Linked DNA regions of Homo sapiens: region 1 is linked to region 2. Evidence: fine-mapped expression QTL. A gene starts in region 2. The other region holds a variant in brackets. All regions are shown on one strand. Distances are between the middles of the regions. Region 1 overlaps VSTM1 (V-set and transmembrane domain containing 1). Region 2 holds the start of TARM1 (T cell-interacting, activating receptor on myeloid cells 1).

Region 1 (8,726 bases), 30 kb after region 2:
TTACAAGTCAGGCAAGTAAGAAAAAACCAGACTGATTTCATGCTCTGGAACGTGACAAGTAATGACAGTGGAAACTACAGCTGTGTGTATTACCTGAGCAACTCATCACACTTGGCCTCCTTCCCCAGCAACAAGCTGGAGATCTGGGTGACAGGTGAGGATAGAGTGATAACACTGGCATTTGACATGTATCCAGCATTTTCTATGTTCCTGTCTCCACGACAGGTAACTTGCCTCCACTAACTCATTCAGTCTTCACTTCCTATGAGGGTGGTTGTGTTACTAACTTCTTTTTGCTCATAGAGATTAGGTGACCTCCCCGGTGTCACAAAAACAATGAGCTTCACAGTTGCTATTCAGACATAAATGAAAATTTATATTTCATTATGCCAGAGAAGGAAAGCCAGAAAGAGTGTCCAGTGCTCTATGAGGGATGTAGGAATGGCAAATAATGGATTGTGGGGCTAAGAGATCCCATTGTGTGGAAAAGTATGGGAGGCACGGTGCAGGTAACTGAAAAAAAAATGATGAGGACCACAGTGAGAAGATGCACGTGGGAGGATTGTAACATACATGACTTGAGATCCCAAGGAAGAGGGATAAAGAATAATTTTGCATCACTTTCATCTACCCATTTATCTACTCACCCATCCATCTATCAATCTACCCACCCATCTATCAACCCACCCACCCATCTACCCACCTACCAACCCATCCACCCTCCTACCCACTCATTCACCCATCCATCCACTCACTTATCCATCTATCCATCAACTCATCCATCCATCCATCCATCCATCCATCCATCCATTCATCTATCCATTAATCCATCCAACCACCAACCCTTCCATTCATCTGTCCACCCACCCCTTCATCCATCTATCTACCTACCTACCCATCTATTTACCCAGCCACTCATTTGTCCATCCTTCCACCCATTCATCCACTCATCCACCCTTTCACCCATTCACTCACCCCCACCCACCTATCCATCTATCCATCCATCCATCCATCCATCCATCCATTCATCCATTCATTTATTAGTCACTAAACAATACCTCTCAACTGACCACAGTTGCTTCCAGTAGGTCAGTCCTGCCATATCATGGGAAATCCCTGGAGAGACTTTACAGTCATCAGTGTAGTGTAGAAGTAGCCGTGGGTCCACACCAATGACTTAGCCTGGGCTTGGGGCATGATGAGTAACTGAATACTTAATGTTTCACCTCTGATTTACCCTCTTTCTGAGGCTCTTGATCAATGATACTCCAACAAGGTGCTCATCACTTTGATATTGATTTCAAATTGTATTCCCCATAACTCGTTCTTGTAGTCTTAAGAATTTCTGCACCCACACTTTAGCCCTAAAAGCCTCGCGATTATTTGCCATTTCCCAATTATGTTCTCTGGCATATCATCTACTGTTTCCTGATTTCTTCACCTCTATCGCAGCTGTACCATTACATCACAAGACAGGCTATAGTATCAATTTCCAGTGGTTGATTTTCCAGGTCAGCCTTCCATATACAATCTGTTTGCTGCTTTGCAAATCACTTTATTATACTACTTTTTACTTTTTTATTATACTACTTTTTACTTATTACAAAATGGGCATATAAATGCTTCCATTACAAAAAAAAATTAATGCAAAATACCTGGCACAAAAATAGCTGCCCATTCACCCTACAAATTCAGATACTTTGGTAGATCCTGAGCATATTGTAGGAACTGAGACAGACCAGGTCTCTGGCCAACAGGAGCTCACATTCTTCTTTGGAAGAAAGAAAGAAATAAGAGCAAGCTATCAGAGTAATTAAAAAACACATTATAGATGGAGAATAACTGTGAGAGGCATTGTATTAGTGATCTACAGCTGCATAACAAATTACCACTAATTTAGCAGCCTGAAACACCTATTTATTATCTCACAGTTGATGTGGGTCAGGAGTCCAGGCACAGCTTAGCTGAGTCCTCTGCTTTGGGTCTCATAAGGATGCAATCAAGGTGTCAACAAGGGCTGTGTTCTCATCTGGCTCATCTGGAGGCTTGACTGGGGAAGGGTCCATTTCTCCACTCCTGTGGTTGATAGCAATATCTGGTTCTTTATAGCTGTAGGATTCATGCTAGAATGATTCTGCAGCACTTGCAAGAAGAGAGATTGAGAGAGAGAGAAGAAAGAGAGAGCAAATGCCCTAGCAAACAGAGTTTTATGTAATGTAACATAATCAAGAGCATAACATCCCATCACCTTTGCCATAGCTATTGGTGAGAAGAAAGTCACAGATCTCCACACTCAAGGTGAGGGGATTAGACAAAGGCATGAACACCAGGAAGCAGGGCTCCTGAGTCTCCTGAGTGCCCCCTTAGGGTCTATCTGCCACAAGCATGAAGGATGAGAATGACCCAACCACACCGATATCTGGAGAACAGCCCTCCAGGGAGAGAGAGCAGCAAAAGCAAAGTCTCAGAAGTGTGAGTGTTCCTGGAATGATTGAGACACAGAAAGGAGGACATAAGGCAGGGCCTAGAGCATCTAGGATCTTGTGGGTGTTTGAACTGGTCCTAGAGTCTGCTTTGAAAGAACAGGAACCCACTGATGAAGTTGAGCTGGAGGATGGCATGATTTTATTTATATGCTGGAAGGGTCACTGGCTGCTTTTTTTTTTTTTTTTTTTTTTGAGACAGGGTCCCACTCGGTTGCCCAGGCTGGAGTGCAGTGGTGCAATCACAGCTCACTGCAGCCTTGACCTCCCAGGCCCAGGTAATCCTCCCACCTCAGCCTCCCAAGCATCTGAGATTACAGGCACAGGCCATCATGCCCGGCCTCTGGCTGCTTTTGGAAAATAAGGGACTAGATGTAGTAAGAGTTGGTGCGTTTCAGGCAATACGACTTTTTAAATTTAAAAATATCAAATTGACAAATGAAGATTGTATATATTCAAGGTATACAATCTGATGATTTGATCCACCTGTACATTGTGTAATGATTATCACAGTCAAATTAATTAGCACATCCATTGCCACCATGCTGAGCACCTGAACTTCTTCATCTTAGAACTGGAAACTTATACCCTTTCATCAACATCTCCGCATATATCATGCTAAACAAAATAAGCCAGACTCAGAAAGACAAATTCTGCAGGATCTCACTCATATGTGTAGTCTAAAAAAGCCAAACTCACAGAAGCAACTGGTGGTTGCCAGGGACTGGTGAGTAGGTGATATTTCATTTCATTTTTATTTTTATTTTTATTTTTTTTTTGAGACGGAGTCTGGCTCTGTCCCTCAGGCTGGAGTGCAGTGGCGCGATCTCGGCTCACTGCAAGCTCCGCCTCCCGGGTTCACGCCATTCTCCTGCCTCAGCCTCCCGAGTAGCTGGGACTACAGGGGCCCGCCACCACGCTCGGCTAACTTTTTGTATTTTTAGTAGAGACGGGGTTTCACCATGTTAGCCAGGATGGTCTCGATCTCCTGACCTTGTGATCTGCCCGCCTCGGCCTCCCAAAGTGCTGGGATTACAGGCGTGAGCCACTGCGCCCGGCCAAGTAGGTGATATTTTAACTTAGACTAAATGGTGCCACTGTGGAGATAGAAATATAGGCCAGGTGCAGTGGCTCATGCCTGGAATCCCAGTATTCTGAGTGGCCAAGGCAGGTTGATCACTTGAGGCCAGGAGTTTGAGACCAGCCTGGCCAACATGGTGAAACCCTGTCTCTACTAAAAATACAAAAATTAGCAGGGTGTGGTGGCGGGCGCCTGTAGTCCCAGCTACTTGGAAGGCTGAGGCAGGAGAATCTCTTGAACC[C/T]GGGAGGCGGAGGTTGCAGTGAGCTGAGATCATGCCACTGCACTCCAGCTTGGGTAACAGTGCAAGACTCAAAAAAAATAAAAGAAAGAAAGAATTTGGGTGAATGGTGTTCTTTGTCAAGATAGAGAAGACTGGCAAGGAATCAAACTGGAGGGGGCGTTAGCAGGGTCATTCATAAATATTTTTGTTATTAAAAATACTATCAAACTCCAGGACTATTAAGAAGAGTAATCTGAGGCTCTGTCCATGCTCTGAGGACCCAGGGAGCATCTAGGGAATGGAGAAGCCATTCTCTTTTCTGCTTCCCAAAGAAGAACAGGATGTCTATAAGTAGGACGTGAGGACTCCTGTCCCCAAGGTTCCTGTATGATTAGTGTAATTCCTTTTCTTCCCTCCTATTTTCTAGATAAACACGATGAACTTGAAGCTCCCTCAATGAAAACAGGTAAGATAATTAGAAAGGAGATGTTTTTCCCAATGAGATCTGCTTCATGATCACCTTTGCTTAAAGTGCACAAGGAGAACTTTATTTATTTGTTTGTTTGTTTGTTTGTTTGTTTTTTGAGATAGAGTCTCGCTTTGTCACCAAGGCTGGAGTACAGTGGCGCAATCTCAGCTCACTGCAACCTTCGCCTCCCGGATTCAAGCAATTTTCCTGCCTCAGCCTCCCGAATAGCTGGGACTACAGGCACGCACCACCACACCCAGCTAATTTTTGTATTTTTAGTAGAGACGGGGTTTCACCATGTTGGCCAGGCTGGTCTCGAACTCCTGACCTTGTGATCTGCCCGCCTCAGCCTCCCAAAGTGCTGGGATTACAGGCGTGAGCCACCGCACACGGCCTATTTATTTTTTTGAGAAAGAGTCTTGTTCTGTCCCCCAGGGTGGCGTGAAGTGGCACAATCTCAGCTCACTGCAACCTCCACTTCCTGGGTTCTGGGTTCAAGCAATTCTCCTGCCTCGGCCTCCCGAATAGCTGGGATTACAGGCACCCACCACCATATCCAGCTCAGTTTTGTTTTTTGTTTTTTGTTTTTAGTAGAGATGGGGTTTCACCATGTTGGCCAGGCTGGTATCAAACTCCTGACCTCAAGCAATTCCCCCGCCTCGGCCTCTCAAAGTGTTGGGATTACAGGCATGAGCCACCGCACCCGGCCTAGAAGAACTTTAAAGCCCATTTTCTCAATGTTATTGGGGAAACTGCTGTGTTTTGGGGGGTGGAGGATGAGGGGAGATAACCTCTAAAGTGCTTCCGGGTTCTGAAGAAGCTGGTGTGTAAAACAGCACAGAGTGCGTTGTTTGCCATATGACATGATGAAAAACTAGGGTGGGATTTGGGGAATAATGGGGGTGAATTTTTCAGTGACCCATTTGGGGAGTAGGACCAGGACCTACGCAGAGTAGGTACTTCAGGAATATATATAATCAAGAGTTTGTTATAACTCTAAAATTCTCAAAAATAGGTGAATATTGAATTTTTTTTCTAATGTTGCTTATTCATTAACAATTGACTAAGATTCTGTCCTCAGAGTTTCTCATAAAAATTAGAGCTTTTGGGCCAGGCGAGGTGGCTCACATCTGTAATCCCAGCACTTTGGGAGGCCGAGGTGGGCGGATCACCTGAGGTCAGGAGTTCGAAACCAGCCTGGGCAACATGGTGAAACCCTGTCTCTACTAAAAATACAAAAATTTGCTGGGCATTGTGGTGGGCGCCTGTATTCCCAGCTACTCAAGTGACTGAGGCAGGAGAATTGCTTGAACCTGGGAGGCAGAGGTTGCAGTGAGCCGAGATTACACCACTGCCCTCCAGCCTGGGCAACAGAGTGAGACTCTGTCTCCAAAAAAAAAAAAAAAAAAAAAAAATTAAAAAGTTAGAGCTTTTGGCAGCATTCGGCTGAAACAGGAACTCATCCAGACTTTAAGGGCCAAATGCAGAATATAAATTGGCATCTAGATGCTTAATCATCCTTCCTTTCAGCAAGTCATAATCTTCCTGCAACCTACTCCAAAGAGCCAAAGTTGCTGAAGGTTGTTGCTAGCAGTCTGTGCTGGTATAATCGGTTTTCAAAAAGGTATCCTCCAAAGTGTTCTTGCAAGATAACTATTTGAAACGTTTTTATTCCATGATAGTAGGCTTGGGAAATGTCTGCTACCCTAGCACTACGAACACAATTCACGTCAGGAACGTTTTCTGAGAAAGATATGAAATCTAATGGGAGAGAGGAACACAGAAGTATCAGAAACGAGGTGGGAGATCTAGTGAGGTGTGAGGGGGAGGAGGAAGAGAAGCTTTTCTATTTTGAGCTCTTGTATCATTTATTTTCTTTCTTTTTTTATTGATATATAATTCACAGTCCAAAAATTCACCCTTGTAAAGTGTCCAATTCACTGGCATTTTGTATCTTCATGAGGTAGTATAACCATCACCACTACATAATTCCAGAACATTCTCATCACCCTAAAAGAAAATCTTGTACCCATTAAGCAGTCACTCCTCATTTCCCACTTTCCCACCAGGCCCTTCCAACCATTCATATGCTTCTCTGTGTCTATGATTTTGTCTATTCTGGACATTTTGTGTAAGTGGATTCATACACTATGTGATCCTTTGTGACTAGCTCCTTTCTCTTTAGCATAATGTTTTCAAAGTTTGTCTGTACTGTAGCATGCATCAATGTTTCATTTCTTGTCATGGTGAAAAGCATCGTATTGTATGGATAGACCACATTTTGCTTATCCATTCTTTTTTTTGTTTTTGTTTTTGTTTTTTTGAGACGGAGTCTTGCTCTGTCGCCCAGGCTGGAGTGCAGTGGCACAATCTCAGCTCACTGCAACCTCCGCCTCCCAGGTTTAAGTGATTCTTTTGCCTTAACCTCCTGAGTAGCTGGACCTACAGGCGCCCGTCACCATGCCTAGCTAATTTGTGTATTTTTAGTAGAGAGGGGGTTTCACCATGTTGGCTAGGCTGGTCTCGAACTCCTGACCTCAGGTGATCCACACGCCTCAGCTTCCCAAAGTGCTGGGATTACAGACTTGAGCTACTGTGCCTGGCCCCGTTCTTCTTTTGATGGACATTTGTGTTGTCTGCACCTCTTGGCTAAAGCGAGTAATGGTGCTGGAACACTGTGGTAGGAGTATCTGTTTGTCTCCGCGCTGTAAATTATCTTGAGTATGTACCTAGAAGTGGATTTGCTAGGACATATGGTGACTATTATGTTCAACTTTTTGAGGAACTGCCAAATCATTTTCCATTGTGGCTGTATCATGTTATATTCCTTCCAGTAATATATGTGGGTTCCAATATCTCCACATCCTTGTCAACACTTACTTTTCTTTTTTTAAATTATAGCCATCCCAGTGGGTATTATATAATTTCTTAAAATGTACTTTTTGAGTTCAAATTTGTATCATCACAATTCTAAACAGAATAAAATATCTTTGCCGGGCGCAGTGGCTCACGTCTGTAATACCAGGACTTTGGGAAGATGAGGCAGGAGGATCACTTGAGCCCAGGGGTTCAAGACCAGCCTGGACAACTTGGTAAGATCCCATCTCTACAAAAAATACAAAAATTAGCCAGGCGTGGTGGTGTGCACCTGTAGTCCCAGCTACTTGGGAGGCTCAGGCAGAAAGATCGTTTGCGCCCAGGAGGTTGAGGCTTCAGTGAACTGTGATTGCGCCACAGCACTCCAGCCTGGGTGACAGAGCGAGACCCTGTTTCAGTAAATAAATAAAATAAAAGTAAAATATCTGTAAGCACAGGTATGATGTCCCCAGCCTGTATTTATATGCCTAAAACACACTAGAAAACGACTCTATGTTCAATCGCAATGTAGAGAATGAAGATGAATTTTATCACACAAGACTTGACTTTCTTTCTGGTGCCTGTGCCTCCATTTATGCCCCGTGTCAGGCTGTATCTTGTTGCTCACGCTGACTTTAGTAGCGTAGCAAGTTATGATTTATTCTGGCAATTTGCAAATACTGATGCAACATTTGGCCAGGATCTGTGGACATCTCAGGGTGAACCCAGTTCAGCTGATTATGGGGTCATATGAAGATGAGAATTTTGCAATAATGTACTTCTCATTTCTAGTGAATTGCTGTGTGAAAGATACCGTAGGCTGGAAAAGGGGAGAACAGAAAGGACAAGGCAAGGCTGCTGTTTCTCTGCTTCCATCTGGGGAAACTGAGAGTCCAGGAGCAGCTGTTCCTGCCCTGTTTTCATAAGTCCTTGGAGATGCACTGATAGAATTGTTGCTTATGGCCAGGCATGGTGGCTTATGTAATCCCAGCACTTTGGGAGGCCAAAGTGGGCAGAACACTTGAGCTCTGGAGTTTGAGACCAGCCTAACCAACATGGTGAAACCTCATCTCTACTAGAAATATAAAAAATTAGCGGGGTGAGGTGGCGGGTGCTTGTAATCCCAGCTCCTTGGGAGGCTGAGGCAGGAGAATTGCTTGAACCCCAGAGGGGGAGGTTCCAAAGCCGAGATTGTACCACTGCACTCCAGCCTGGGAGACAGAGTGAGACTGTCTCAAAAAAAAAAAAATTGTTGCTTTTGAGGGGTTCTCTGATTCAGCTCCACCAGAAGCAGGCTCTTAGACAGCATTAGTGTGAAAGTGACGTTTTATTTTATTTATTATTTATTTAGTTTTGAGACAGAGTTTCGCTCTTGTTGCCCAGGCTGGAGTGCAATGGCGTGATCTTGGCTCACTGCAACCTCCGCCTACCAGGTTCAAGAGATTCTCCTGCCTCAGCCTCCCAAATAGCTGGGATTACAGGCATGCACCACCACACCCAGCTAATATTCTATTTTTAGTAGAGACGGGGTTTCTCCATGTTGGTCAGGCTGGTCTCGAACTCCTGACCTCAGGTGCTCTGCCTGCCTCGACCTCCCAAAGTGCTGGGATTACAGGT
Region 2 (8,726 bases):
CCAACCCAGTGGTTCTCAAACTTGACTGCACATTAGAATTTCCCAGGAACATTTAAAACACAGAATGAGACACCCAGGCCTCATCCTATACCCATTATAAAAATTAAAATCTCGACTGGGCACGGTGGCTCACACCTGTAATCCCAGCACTTTGGGAGGCCAAGGTGGGCAGATCACCTGAGGTCAAGAGTTCAAGACCAGCCTGACCAACATGGAGAAATCCCATCTCTACTAAAAAATACAAAATTAACTGGGTGTGGTGGCACTTGCCTGTAATCCGAGCTACTTGGGAGGCTGAGGCAGGAGAATCGCTTGAACCCGGGAGGCAGAGGTTGCAGTGAGCTGAGATCATGCCATTGCACTTCAGCCTGGGCAACAAGAGCAAAATTCCATCTTAAAAAAACAAAAATAAAAAAATAATTAAAATCTCTCGGTGGGACTCAGGCACTCAGTAAATATATATATATCTATTTCCATTGACCATAACACATGACAGACTAAAGATGGCCTCCAATTCTTTGTCACTGTCCCTATAGAGAGGTAGAGTTTATTTTCCCTCCCCTTGAATCTGGCCTTTCCTTAAGACTGTAGAAGAAGAGAAACTGTGTCAGTTCCAGGCTTAGTCTTTAAAGGGACAAACAACTTTTGCCTTCTTTATTTTATTTATTTATTTATTTATTTGAGACAGAGTCTCATTCTGTTGCCCAGGCTGGAGTGCAGTGGTGTGATCTCGGCTCACTGCAACTTCCGCCTCCCAGGTTCAAGCAATTCTCCTGCCTCGGCCTCCTGAGTAGCTGGGATTACAGGTGTGCACAAACACACCCGGCTAATTTTTTTTAATTTTGTTTTTAGTAGAGACGGGGTTTTACCATGTTGGCCAGGCTGATGTTGAACTCCTGACCTCAGGTGATCCACCCACCTCGGCCTCCCAAAGTGCTGGGATTACAGACGTGAGCCACCATGCCCAGCCGCCTTCTCTATTTTAGAAAGCTCTCTTGTGACATCCCCTCTTGAAACCCAGATGCTATCCTCCAAGAAGTCTGAATCAAATGGAGAGGCCATGTGCAGGTACATCATTCAACAGTCCTAGCCGAGCTTTCAACCAACATCCAGCATCAACAGCCAGCCATTTGCAAGTGCCATCTTGGAGATTCCAGCTCAGTTGAGCCACCCTGATGACTGAAGCCCAGGAAGACATCACATTGAACCGAAGAACCGCTCAACTGAGCCCAGTCATCTCACCAGATCAGGAATGATTAAAAAAAAAAAAAAACAAGATTGTTACTCTAAGTTACTCAGTTTTGGGGTGGTTTGTTAACACAGTAATTGATAACCTAAACCCAAAAGAGAACTAAATAATGATGACTTAAAACTAATACCAATTGATTTCTCCCTTATGTAGAATAAATCTGAAGGGAGCAGTCCAAGGCTGGCACAGTGACTCCAAAAAGCATTATGGACCTAAGTTACTTCTGGCTCACCCTCCACCATCTTGAACCTCATCTCATCTTCATGGTTCAAGATGACGCTAGAATACCAGTCATCACATCCACATTTTAGGCAGTTAAGTGAAGGAAGGAAAGTGTACTTCATTAAAGAACCTTTTGGAAGCTGTCTACAATATTTATGCTTATTTATCATTGTCCTAGATGAAGACTTACGGCTACATCTACCTGTAAGTGACACTGAAGAATGTAGTTTTTTACCTGGGTGCCAATGGGCCCAGCTAAAAATCAGAATTCTCAACAGCAAAAGGATGGCTTTGAGATAATCATGTAGATTATGTGCAGATAACTACAGATAAGTCCCCTCCCCCAAGTCTATTTTAAATTTTCTCCTGGAGTATTTTAAAGTAAACCTCAGATATAATATGATTTCATCTATAAGACTTTTTATTTTGGTAACATATTCTTAAGGTTAGGTGTGATAAACACCTAACAAAGTGAATGATTATTTATTTATTTATTTTATTATTATTTTTTGAGATGGAGTTTCACTCTTGTTGCCCAGGCTGGGGTACAATGGTGCGATCTCAGCTCACTGCCACCTCCCCCTCCCAGGTTCAAGTGATTCTCCCACCTCAGCCTCCTGAGAAGCTGGGATTACAGGTATATACCACCAAGCCTGGCTAATTTTTGTATTTTTTGTAGAGATGGGATTAGGCCATGTTGCCCAGGCTGGTGTTGAACTCCTGGGATCAAGCCTTCCACCTACCTCACCTCCCAAAATCTTAGGATTACAGGTGTGATCCACCTTGCCTGGCCCTAAGCTATTCTTTATTCTTTCTTTTTTCGTTTTTTGAATCAGGGTCTCCTTTCTTCATTTCCAAGTGGAATGGAACTTTACCAGGCCTTTCCTGTTGACTGATAAAATTCCAGAGCCTAGTTTTAAAATATGCATATTCCTTGTTAGCAACAGAGATGTTAAGAAGAAATATAGGAGATGTCCTCTTTTCCCTGATACTGCATAAGGAGAAAGATTTTTTCTGAGTCACAACACTAATTTAAGGAATCTGATTTGATAAAGAGTTGAATTGAGAAGATTCACAAGAATATCAGTCTTGTTTTCTGGTACAATATGGAGAACTAAATGAATATTCACAAACATTACTAAATTGTTCTCTGTTGAAATAAATTCATACACAAAACTGTTATTTGAACAAAAGGGTCTTGTAAGAGTCCCAAGCCTTTAAAAATCATTGCCACATCTTGTGAAAATAACTTTCAAAGAAACACCTGTAATTATAGTTGGTTTTACTCCTTATAATTTGTTGCCTTGTTGACTTTTCTATGTTCCAAAACAGTAAGAAGAGTAGGTGCTATCAAGACAAAAAATCCGAAAACAAAAACGAGACTTCGGGGCATTTTGCTCTTCTTCCAAATGCAAGATGAAAAAAAACATGGTTAAAAACTAACTTGCTTGATTTCTTATTTTAACAAAAAAATAAAAAATTTTGTCTGATTCAAATTAACATTTTTTTTTTTTTTTGAGACTGAGTCTCACTCTGTTGCCCAGGCTGGAGTGCAATGGTGCGATCTCAGCTCACTGCAACCTTTGCCTCCCAGGTTCAAGCAGTTCTCCTGCCTCAGCCTCCTGAGTAGCTGGGATTACAGGCGTGCACCACCACGCCCAGCTAATTTTTGTATTTTTAGTAGAGATGAGGTTTCACCATGGTTGGCCAGGCTGGTCTCGAACTCCTGACCTCAGGTTATCTACCTGCCCCGGTCTCCCAAAGTGTTGGGATTACAGGCATGAGCCACTGCGCCAGGCTAAATTAACATAATTATCAAATGCAATCTGTAGACTTTTATTGGATCCTGATTTATTCTTTAAAAACCTGATAGAAATGACATTTTTGAGACAATCAGGGAAATTTGAGTACTGAATGGGTATTAGCTGGTATCAAGGAGGTACTCTTAACTTTCTTGATGTGACAGTGCTGTGGTGCTTATATTATTTTTAAAATGGTTCTTATTTGATAAAGATAGATATGTACTGAAATATTCTGAACTTAAAAAATGAGCTCATGACTGGCTGGGCACAGTGGCTCATGCCTGTAATCCCAGCACTTTGGGAGGCTGAGGTGGGTGGATCACTTGAGATCAGGAGTTTGAGACCAGCCTGGCCAACATGGTGAAACCTCATCTCTACTAAAAAATACAAAAATTAACTGGGCGTGTTGAAGGGCTCCTGTAATCCCAGCTACTTGGGAGGCTGAGGCAGGAGAACCGCTTGAACCTGGGGGTTGGAGGTTGCAATGAGATGAGATTTTGCCACTTCACTCCAGCCTGGGCGAAAGAGTGGAACTCTGTCTCAAAAGAAAAAAAAAATGGTGATGAAGGCCTGGCACAGTGGCTCATGCCTGTAATCCCAGCAGTTTGGGAGGCCGAGGCAGGTGGATCACTTGAGGCGAGGAGTTCAAGACTAGCCCAGCTAACTTGTGAAACCTCATCTTAACTAAAAATACAAACATTAGCCGGGCATGGTGGCATGCGCCTATAATCCCAGCTACTTGGGAGGCTGAGGCCGGAGAATTGCTTGAACCCAGGAGGCTGAAGTTGCAATGACCTGAGATCGTGCCACTGGACTCCAGCCCAGGTAACAGAACCAGACACCATCTCAAAAAAAAAAAAAAGAGTGAAGTGCTTTCATCTCTTCAATACGAACCCTTCAGGGCCAAGTCTGAAGCATTTTCGGGGTTACCTGTTTGATGCCTGAAATCTGCCTGAGACAGAGGAGCATTTCCTGTGAGTCAAGTGCTCGAACACTGGTGTGTGTAAGGAGCATGTTGCAATCAGCAACATCAACATGTTTCCTGAATGTGGATATGGGAGGGGAAACTGAAAGGCTAGGAAAGGCTGTTACTGCCCACACTCTGGGGTGGGAGAGAGGCAGCGACGACTCCAGCTCTTCTCCCATCTGTGGACTGCAGAACCCAAGACGGACTCTGGGAGGGCTAAGGAGCCATCATGATCCCTAAGCTGCTTTCCCTCCTCTGTTTCAGTAAGTCTCACAGGGCTATCCACTGGGACTGCAGAAAATCATGGAACTGGTGGGATAGTTGGGCTGGGGATGGAAATAATAACATCAACTTTGGCTTACTGAGCACACGGGAGGAGTGAGACGTCCTGCTGAGTGCACTGCAGACATTCCCTGGAAACGAGTGCTCTGCAAACTTCAACTCCTGTAGTTTCAACTTCGTGAGTTTTGCTGAATGCCTCCACCACCTGGCTTCATTGGCTTACCCCTTTTCTCAGGATCAACTCTGACTTTTTGTGTGTAAGTAAAAGTATTCAGAATAGAAACCTTATTTTATTTTATTTTATTTTATTTTTTTGAGACAGGGTTTTGCTCTTGTTGCCCAGGCTGTAGTGCAATGGCGTGATCTCGGCTCACCACAACCTCTGCCTCCCGGGTTCAAGCGATTCTCCTGCTTCAGCCTCCTGAGTAACTGGATTACAGGGGTGCGCCACCATGCCTGGTTAATTTTTGTATTTTTAGTAGAGACGGTGTTTCACCATGTTGGCCAGGCTGGTCTCGAACTCCCGACCTCAGGTGATCTGCCCACCTCAGTCTCTCAAAGTGCTGGGATTACAGATGTGAGCCACTGTGCCTGGCCCAGAAACCTTAATACCATAAATAAAAATTTAGTGTCAAATAGATAACTATAAAGTAAATTGAGGCCGCTGTGTAACCATCACCACTATCTACACTAAAACCTCTTTCTTTCTTCCTTCCTTCCTTCCTTTCTTTCTTTTTCTCCTTCCCTTCCTTCCTTCCTTCCTTCCTTCCTTCCTTCCTTCCTTCCTTCCTCCCTTCCTTCCTCTCTCTCTCTTTCTTTTTTTTTTTTTTGAGATGGAGTCTCGCTCTGTCGCCCAGGCTGGAGTGCAGTGGTGCGATCTCTGCTCACTGCAAGCTCCGCCTCCCGGGTTCACGCCATTCTCCTGCCTCAGCCTCCCGAGTAGCTGGGACTACAGGCGCCCGCCACCATGCCCGGCTTTTTTCGTAGGTTTCACTGTGTTAGCCAGGATGGTCTCCATCTCCTGACTTCTTGATCTGCCCGCCTCGGCCTCCCAAAGTGCTGGGATTACAGGCGTGAGCCCCCGCTTGCTTGCCTGCTTGCTTGCTTGCTTGCTTGCTTGCTTGCTTGCTTGCTTGCTTGCTTGCTTTCTTCCTTCCTTCCTTCCTTCCTTCCTTCCTTCCTTCCTTCCTTCCTTTCTTTCTCTTTCTCCTTCATTCCTTCCTTCCTCTCTCTCTTTCCCTTCCTTCCTTCCTTCCTTCCTTCCTTCCCTCCTTTTCCTTTTTTTGAGACAAAGTCTCACTCTGTACCCAGGCTGGAGTGCAGTGGTATGACCACAGCTCACTGCAGCCTCCACCTCCTGGGCTCAAGCAATTCTCCTGCCTCAGCCTCCTGGGTAGCTGAGATTACAGGTGCCCACCACACACCCGGCTGATTTTTTGTACTTTTTAGTAGAGACGGGGTTTCATCATGTTGGCCAGGCTGGTCTTGAGCTCCCTCAGGTGATCACCTCAGGTGATCTGCCCGCCTCAGCCTCAGCCTCCCAAAGTGCTGGGATTACAGGCGTGAGCCACAGTGCCCCGTGTAATTTTTAAATTTTTTGTAGAGACGGGATCTCACTATGTTACTCAGGCTGGTCTCAAACTCCTGGCCTCAAGCAGCCCTTCTGCCTTGGCCTCCCAAAGTGCTGGGATTACAGGCGTGAGCCACTGTGGTGGCTCTGCCACCTTTTTCTCCCATCCTGGCCCTCAGCAGAATACCCACCTCCATTAGGAAGGCCAACCTGCCCGACTCAGCATTAGATTCAAATGCTGATCTTTCTAAAAACACCCTCACAGACACGCCCAGAAATAATGTTTAACCAGATATCCCAGCATCCTGTGGCCTGGTCTAGCTGATAAATCAAATTAACAATCACAATTCCCAATATGAACGCTACACCCTCTAACCAATAACTCTGTATTTGCCGCGGTCCTCCCAGCCCCTGGTAACCTCCATTCTAATTTCTTTTTTTTTTTTTTTTTTCGGAGATGGAGTCTTGCTTCGTCACCCAGGCTGGAGTACAGTGGCCTAATCTCAGCTCACTGCAACCTCCGCCTCCTGGGTTCAAGCGATTCTCCTGCCTCTCCCTCCCGAGTAGCTGGGATCACTGGCGCTCACCACCATGCCTGGCTAAGTTTTTTTTTTTTTTTTTTTTTAGTAGAGACAAGGTTTCACCATGTTGACCAGGCTGGTCTCGATCTCCTGACTTTGTGATCTGCCTGTCTCGGCCTCCCAAAGTGCTGGGATTACAGGCGTGAGCCACCGTGTCCAGCCCATTCTAATTTTTATCTCTATGAATTTGCTTATTCTAGGATGTATGAGTGGAATCATAACACTTGTTCTTTTTTGCCTGACTTAGTTTACTCAGCATAATATCCTCGAGCTACATCTATATTGTAGGATATGTCAGATTTCCTTTCCTTTTTATGGCTAAAATCCCACTGTAGGCCGAGCACAGTGTCTCACACCTGTAATCCCAGCACTTTGAGAGTCTGAGGCAGGCAGATCGCTTGAGCCCAGGAGTTCGAGACTAGCCTGGGCAACATGGTGAAACCCTGTCTCTACAAAAAATACAAAAATGAGGCTGGGCATGGTGGCTCACGCCTGTAATCCCAGCACTTTTTTTGCAATGACCTGACGTAAGGAGTTCGAGAACAGCCTGGCCAATAGGGTGAAACCCCATTTCTACTAAAAATATAAAAATTAGCCATGCGTGGTGGCGGGCGCCTGTAATCCCAGCTACTTGGGAGGCTGAGGCAAGAGAATCGCTTGAACCCAGGAGTCAGAGGTTGCAGTGAGCCGAGATCATGCCATTGCACTCCAGTCTGGGCAACAAGAGCGAAACTCCATCTCAAAATAAATAAATAAATATTAAAAACAACAACAACAACAAAAATGAGCTGGGCATGGTGGTGTGCAGCTGTAGTCCCAGCTACTCGGGAGGCAGAGGTGGGAGGATCACCTGAGCCCAGGGAGTTGATGCTGGAATGAACTAGGATCACATCATTGCACTCCAGCCTGGGCAGCAGAGCGAGACCCTGCCTCAAAAAAAAAAAAAAAAAAAAAAAAAGAAAGAAAGAAAAGAAAAAGAAAAAAGCATTTTGGAGGCTAAGATGGGCGGATCACCTGAGGTGGGGAGTTCAAGACCAGCCTGACCAACATGGTGAAACCCTGTCTCTACTAAAAAATACAAAATTAGCTGGGCATGGTGGTGCATGCCTGTAATCCCAGCTACTTGGGAGGCTGAGGCAGGAGAATCACTTGAACCCACAAGGCGGAGGTTGCAGTGAGCTGTAATCCCAGCTACTTGGGAGGCTGAGGCAGGAGAATCACTTGAACCTGCAAGGCGGAGGTTGCAGTGAGCTGTAATCCCAGCTACTTGGGAGGCTGAGGCAGGAGAATCACTTGAACCCGCGAGGCGGAGGTTGCAGTGAGCCGAGATCGCGCCATTGCACTCCAGCCTGGGCAACAAGAATGAAACTATGTCTCAAAAAAAAAAAAAAAAAAAACGAAGAAAAAGAAGAAAAATCCCATTGAATATATAGAGCACACTGTGTTTATCCATTCTTCCATGGATGGACACTTACGTTGTTTGAACATTTTGGGTGTTCACAATTTCCTTTTGCAAAACTTGAAGTGTCAGTTTATGGATTGGCTCATGGATGTAATAGTAGCACAAACGCCTGGTAACTTCTCCTTTTTCCTGCTGAGACCTAAAACTGTTCACACAGGGGAAAAAGAGGAAATCTCTCAGAGACACAGGCCTAACTAACTTTCTTTGAGTTAGATCAATCTCATTATTATGATAATGTTCATAAACAGGCTTGATATTATGTTTTTTCTTTTCTTTCTCTTTTTTTTTTCTTTCCTGAAACTGAGTCTCGCGCTGTGGCCAGGCTGGAGTGCAGTGGTGCGATCTCAGCTCATTGCAAACTCTGCCTCCTGGGTTCAAGCGATTCTCTGCCTCAGCCTCCTGAGTAGCTGGGATCACAGGCGCCCATCACCACACCTGGCTAATTTTTGTATTTTTAGTAGAGACGGGGTTTCACCATGTTGGCCAGGCTGGTCTTCAACTCCTGACCTCGTGATCCACCTGCCTCGGCCTCCCAAAGTGCTGGGATTACAGGCGGGAGCCACCGCGCCCGGCATGGTCAAGAGTTCTTAA

What was found. PIP is the estimated chance that this variant, and not a neighbour inherited with it, causes the effect.
Region 1: its variant is fine-mapped to the expression of TARM1 in whole blood (TOPMed, PIP above 0.99).

The regions. Positions count from the first base shown.
Region 1 is chr19:54,046,934-54,055,659 of GRCh38, reverse strand. VSTM1 (V-set and transmembrane domain containing 1) reads left to right here. Exons shown (of 9, transcript NM_198481.4): 4 at 4,212-4,250. Among named protein-coding and RNA genes, the nearest start is that of VSTM1, 13 kb to the left of the region's middle. The variant C/T (reference allele first, on the strand shown) is at 3,806.
Region 2 is chr19:54,077,084-54,085,809 of GRCh38, reverse strand. TARM1 (T cell-interacting, activating receptor on myeloid cells 1) reads left to right here and starts at 4,445. Exons shown (of 5, transcript NM_001135686.3): 1 at 4,445-4,503. The coding sequence starts at 4,470.